2 linked regions of the Homo sapiens genome follow. The protein of the gene in region 1 purifies or fractionates together with the protein of each later gene. This does not show direct contact. Each region holds a gene or a part of one and is shown in the gene's direction. Other genes may lie near its edges.

Region 1 (3,500 bases):
CTAAGGCTGCTGCTCAATTTCTAGGGTCACAGCTTCCTCCGTTCATGCTGAAAATCATATGAAGATGGGTTGAAAAGAATTAGTGTACACCCAGAAAATAAACAGGATCTACTCATTAGTATTTCAGTGTAAGGATGAAAGCTTTTAAAAGTACCGACATGGCTATGATAATTGAACTAGAAAAATAGAGAGTTTTTTTTTTCCTGTTGTAAATTTTATTTGGAATGTCTGAAATTTTAGAAATCATTCAACATTCTTTTTAATATACAGTATTTTTAAAAAGCCATTTACGCTGGGTGCGGTGGCTCATGCCTGTAATCCCAGCACTTTGGGAGGCTGAGGTGGGTGGATGACTTGCAGCCAGGAATTCGAGATTAGCCTGGCCGTCTCTACTAAAATACAAAAGTTAGCTGGTCATGGTGGTGCATGCCTGTATTCCTAGCTACTCAGGAGGCTGAGGCATGAGAATCGCTTGAACCCAGAAGGCAGAGGTTGCAGTGAGCCACGATTGCACCGCTGTGCTCCAGTCTAGGTGACAGAACAAGACTGTCTCCAAAACAAACAAACAAACAAAAAAACTCGTTTACAATTCATAATCTCTTGACAACTTCATGATCCTGCTTTGAAAATGTGTTTGCCGGCCAGGCCCAGTGGCTCACAACTGTAATCCCAACATTTTGGGAGGTCCAGGCAGGTCGATCAGTTGAGCTCAGGAGTTCGAGACCAGCCTGGGCAACATGGTGAAACCCCATCTCTACAAAAATACAAAAAATTAGCTGGGCATGGTGGTACGCCCAGGTACCCCGGAGGCGGAGGCGGGAGGATCACTTGAGCCTGGAAGGTTGGTGCTGCAGTGAGCTATGATGGTGCCACTGCTCTCCAGCCTGGGAGATAGAGCAAGACCCTGTCTCGGGGGAAGAAAGATGCTTGCAATTTAGAGATCTCTTAAAAATACTTTAAAAATGTGACACTGAACTGAACTCGAAATTCCAAATTTTAATCATGAGTTAAATTCTACTGACGCTTTCACTATGTTGATAGAAAATGAGAGTGGAGAAGAGCACAGTGAGGGAGAACACAGAGTTCTCAACTTAATAATTTTGTGTTTTTATCATAACATGTGAAATGAAAAGTTTAATAATGTCCTGTTCCATAAAGGCTAGAATGACTACTTGTGCTTGTAAGAATTGTGACCGCTCAGTAATAAATATGCGGCGTTTAACAGAATTGGTGCATTGTGTGATGCTGTGTCTCACCTAATGTCCTGTCTCTGTGGCGTGTGAAACCCTTCGAAGACTTGAGCTTGAGGTCATCTAAACACTTGAATATATGCAGTTAGGTTTTCAGCACAGGGGCTGTGTTCTGTTTTGTGAAGAATGTGCAGTCACAGTAATTGATGGAAGCATTTTACATGAAGGTCTCCCTAATGAAGAAATATGAAGATATTAATATCTGATTTTTACTGCAAAAGTTATTTTTCTGCCGTATTTATAGATTTTCAGAGATCTATGCTAAAGATATTTAAGCTTTAGACTGGGAGCCCTTCTCCTTCAAGGCTAGACTAAGTAAACACTCTTTGTTTTGGCTTCGGAAAATGCATTTTAGAAATCCCAAATTGCAGTGAGTTTAAGTAGTGTGATCACCTTCTAAATATCAAAGTATAGCCCTTGGCTCAGATGGTCTTTGGAGTTTAATTTCCATAAGCAAAGGAGTCTAGGCGATAAGGTCCTTTTTAGATGAAATGGTGTTGGAGTCTCTCCCCGCTTCAGCTTTACTGTTTGTTTTGCATGAGAGCCACAGCCATTGTTTTGATCAGGGTGGTTTTTATAGTGAAACCTGAATTCGTGGTTCTTGGTTACATTACTGCACGGTTAACAATGTCTTCCAAAAAGTGTATTTTTTCATTTAATAATTTATTCTACTCACAGTAGCATTCTGTTAGCCAAGTTTGCAGAGTACATTCAGGTTTTTCAAAGATTTCAGTTAGGAATGTGGTCCACAAGTCCGTCCCAGCTGTATTGTGTCCCGTGAGAACTGCTGAGTAGGATGTGGAAGGTAATTGCATGTTTGGGAATCCAGTTGGGGATGAGTGGGTGGTGGTGGGGGCTGTGGTGGGACTGAGCACCTGGGACAGCATGGGGAGAGAACAGCCAAAGCAGTCTGACGTGTTGGCCATGGTCTGTGTGTCTTAGGGGATGGAACAGTGCCAGAGCCTTCTGGTGGGGGGATGGAGGGGGAAGCAGCGTGGCGCATCAGCAAGTACTTTTTTTTTTGTTTTTGAGACAGAGTCTTGCTCTGTCACCTAGGCTGGAGTGCAGTGGTGCGATCTCAGCTCAGTGCAACCTCCGTCTCCCTTGTTCACGCGATTCTCCTGCCTCTGCCTCCCAAGTAGCTGGGACTACAGGCGCACACCACCGCACCCAGCTACTTTTTGTATTTTTAGTAGAGACAGGGTTTCACCATGTTGGCCAGGATGGTCTCGGTCTCTTGACCTCGTGATCCGCCTGCCTCGGCCTCCCGAAGTGCTGGGATTACAGGCGTGAGCCACCGCGCCCAGCTGGATTAGTGAGTATTTATATTATATAGAACTCCAAGTTCTAATGTTAGGCTTCAGCTGTAGAAAAATCTTTATTTACTCACTGTTTCTTATCACACCACTATGCTGTGGTTCCCTTTCCTCCCTCAGTGGCCGACATCTCCCCTGTCAGGGCCTCCCGTTTGGACCCTTCAAATCTTGGGGTTCTGCTCTTGGATTTTTTTTTTCTTCTGCCTGCTCTCTTCCTTGGTGATCTCATTCAGTTCTGTGGTTTTAAATACCGTCTTTCATATTTAGACAACTCTCAAATTTCTATCTGCCGGCTGGAGTCTCCCACATATCTGCTGCCCACTCACAATCTTTACTTGGATAGCCCGTAGCTGTTCCCATCTTACCCTGTCCAAAACTGACCTCCCGATCTGCTCCCTGAGGCTGCTTCTCCTCCTGTCTCCCTCTCGGTTCCTGGCCCCCTTGTTCTCTACGCTGAGCAGTCTTTGGCATCTTCTCTGGTACTGTTCTCTCCTCCTTTCCCTCCCTCTCCCCACTCCAGCATCAGGCAACCTTGAAATAGATTCACAATCTGCCCCCCACCCCCGTTGTGCCCCAGCCCACACGCGCTCCACCTGTGTTGTGGCTGCAGCCTCTGACTGCTCTGGTCGCCCTCCAGCTTCTGCCCTGGCTGCCCACAGGTTTTTCCATTTTACTGAGACCGTGGCACTCCTCGGTTCAGAATCCGCTGGGGGACTTCTCATTTGATTCATACTAAACTCTAAAGTCCTAAAAATTGTCCTTTATCCATGAGTCCAGACGGATCTTGAGAAAAAAAAAGATTCAGGTTGGATGCAGTGGCTCACACCTGTAATCCTAGCAGTTCGGGAGGCCGAGTTGGGCAGATCGCTTGAGCCTGGGTGTTTGAGACCAGCCTGGGCAACGTGGTGAAACCCCGTCTCTATAAAAAATACAA
Region 2 (3,069 bases), on another chromosome or scaffold:
AATGATTCCAATCCTGAAACCGACAACCGTCAAGAAAGTCCTTCCCAGGAAAACATTGACCGAGTGAGTGACAGGCCTTTGTGCCCTCAGCTTGGACAGCCTCGGGTGGGGTTGCTTGGGGTAACCCGGGTGAATCAGGCAGCAGGACTGGGGGAGTCCGTGCTGAAACCTTGGCTCCCAGGCTCCAGGTGTAACCTGCCCACCTCAGAGGCCACCCACGCAGTAACAGAGGGCAGGGGAGGCCTCCTTGGAAAGCAGGAAAACTGGGGAAGTGTCAGGAAGTTCTCTTTAGGTTTGCTGCCTTTGTCTATGCACCACTGTTTGCATCAGCCTCATTTCTCTGCCTGTGACCTAAAAGGATGGCACTGTGACCTGGGAAACCCATCCAGCTTTGTATCCCAAGTGACGGCTCTGTCCACATTTGTGCCCCTACACGCGTTAGCACGCCTGTATGCTGTGGCCACTGACCTCGCGGTGCTCGTGGTGAGGCTGGTGTGGCGCCCTGCTCTCAGCCCGAGGTCACTGCCTGTCCTGAGATGGCTGCTCCCTGACGCACCCGACTTGAGTCTTCCAAGCCCCCTTCCAGGTTGCTCTACGCTCACATTGCACAGAAGCATGACTTGTGCACAAAGGGCCATGGTGCACACGCCGGGAGCTCTTAAACATGAGAGTCGGCTGTCCACTCGTATGGCTGACGGGGGTGGCAGAAGAGGCGCCAGGGGCTGATGCTGTGACCCCTGCGCTCTCCCCTAGTTGGTGTACATGGGTTTTGATGCACTCGTGGCCGAAGCTGCGCTGAGAGTGTTCAGAGGCAACGTCCAGCTGGCCGCCCAGACCCTTGCTCACAACGGAGGAAGCCTGCCTCCCGAGCTGCCGCTGTCGCCAGAAGACTCTTTGTCCCCGCCAGCCACGTCCCCTTCTGACTCCGCAGGTAGGTCTGAGGTCTTTGAGGGCCGCATTGAGAGCAAAGTGTCTTCAGAAGCCAACAGATGTGGCCCTAAGCCACGGCAGATGTGGAGACTGAGGGGGCGTCCCCTGACGTCACCGGGCCGGCCACCTGGACAGTGTGGCCAGCAAGAGGCACAGTCTGAGGTTGACTGTGGTCGTGCAGTGTCCCCAGGACAATCCTCACATAATTCACTTACTCCTGCGGTATTTTATTGTAGGAACCTCTAGTGCCTCAACAGACGAAGACATGGAGACAGAGGCCGTCAATGAGATACTGGAAGACATTCCAGAGCATGAGGAAGACTATCTTGACTCAACTCTGGAAGATGAAGAAATTATTATTGCAGAGTACCTATCCTATGTAGAAAATAGGAAGTCAGCAACAAAGAAAAACTAAATAATGAACAGAAATAGCGCTAATTTTCTGCTTATAAATGCTATCATTATGAAAAGGCTAATGCAGCTCTTTCTGTTCTTACTTTTTATCTGAATTACAAGTCCTCTTTGGGTGTAGGAGGGGGTGGGCAGGGGACAAGTCCAGGAGGGGTCCCAGGGCCTTCATGCGTGGTCTCGGGGAAGAAGCTTCCTCTGGCCTGGCGCAGGCCGTTCCATCTGCCTCCCAGGTCTGCGTCCCTAACCCCTTCCCCAGCTTGGTGTTTTACCCCGAAACAGGAAGGAACAGGGGTCCTGTAGAACAGGGGTCCTGGGGAAGGTGTCCAGGGCAGGGTCCTGGGAAGGGTGTCCCGACCGCTTCCTCTCCAGCTGTGGCTCCATCTGCCCAGCTTGCCTGCCTCCTGCACCCACTGCCCTGACCTTCCTGCTTCCCACGCTGCCATCTCTGCCAGGGTGCCACATGGGTTCCTGTGCCACCCTTTCCCCGCCCCTCAAATCGTCCTTTAAGTCTTCCTTCCAAGTGCTGTGGGGCATAACGATGAGGCGCTGGCCTTGGGGGCCACACCAGGTCGCAGCAAATGGCTTCAGCCTGGGACGCCAGTGTTTTATGCTCTTAGTTCAGTAAAATACGCCCCCGAAATTCAAGATTGAGTGTCAGGCTTTATATATATTCAGCATTCCTCATTACAGAAATCTTCTATTGAATGGGAAAGGTTTAAATGCTAACCAAAGCAATTTATTTTTAATTAATATTTTTAGACTCTGTGCTGTCATACTGAACTCACTGCTAGCTAAGAGACCTATCAGAGATTTAGATATATTTTCTCCAGGTTTTTTGTGGGTTTTCTTTGTTGTTGTTGTTGTTCTAGCCATGTGACAGAGGCTCTTTCTAAAAGTATGTAGTTCGCTGTGTGTCGGCTCCAGCAGTAACCGTCCTCACTGCGCCACGCACTCCTCTGTAGATGTGTGCCCAGTGGGAGTTCCTTCCAGCCCCAGGACCACAGCAGCAGCCAGGTGCCGAGTGGATTGAGTGCCAGGTGCATCCAAGACTTTCCCTCCCTTCCAGAAGGCACTGACTGAAGACAGGATGGATCATGCGGAGCCGGCTGAAATGCTCCAACTTTTTCAAAGTGTGGGTGGTCCAGTTTGGACTGATGGGAATCTTCTTGTCATTCTTTTTAAACGGATGATACCGATGGAAATAAAAGGTGGGAAATATATTCAAAAATTGTCACCCTAATTTTGCATTAATTTACTCAGCCTCCCCAGCTGTAGGTGTTGAAAGTGTCTGGGTGACTAGCTCTTCATTTTGATTGCAGGATGTCTGTTTCCACTGAGTTTTGTGAGGAGATGATGGAAGGATGATCTCAGAAGCAGAGGGCATCTGCTGTGAAAGATGCCGCACGCCAAGCGGGGCTGGGGTGCATCCTGGGCAGGGGACTGAAATGTACCTGTCAGGGTTTGCCTCAGAAGTGCCTGGTGAGCTGAGGTGACGCGGAGTCTCAGCCTCATTTGACACAATGCCACACTTGGATTTGGGGCCTGAATTTAAGCTTTTGGCTAACAAATCGCTGTCCTGCGCTTGGTTCAGGCGTGTCTTCTAGCTTCCCAGCTGTTTTTAGCCATCATAGAAGCAATGCCACACCAGCAGGCCCCAAAACTCTTCCGTGTCTTGTGAAGAGAGAGCCGCAGAGGAAGCCGGCTGTGGAGGCAGTTCTGGGCATGCGC

Evidence for each region. The genes of interacting proteins can lie anywhere in the genome.
Region 2: the proteins of FAT1 (region 1) and NUB1 purify together in Homo sapiens (affinity purification with western blotting, with the first as the bait; one study listed by BioGRID). This does not show direct contact.

Annotation. Positions count from the first base shown.
Region 1 is NC_000004.12:186,713,857-186,717,356, reverse strand, and holds part of FAT1 (protocadherin Fat 1 isoform 1 precursor), read left to right. Parts: intron 1-3,500.
Region 2 is NC_000007.14:151,375,881-151,378,949, forward strand, and holds the end of NUB1 (NEDD8 ultimate buster 1), read left to right. Parts: coding exon 1-63; exon of another isoform or gene 64-753; coding exon 754-931; exon of another isoform or gene 932-1,166; coding exon 1,167-1,345; 3' UTR 1,346-2,569; downstream 2,570-3,069. UniProt on the Homo sapiens protein: Specific down-regulator of the NEDD8 conjugation system. Recruits NEDD8, UBD, and their conjugates to the proteasome for degradation. Isoform 1 promotes the degradation of NEDD8 more efficiently than isoform 2.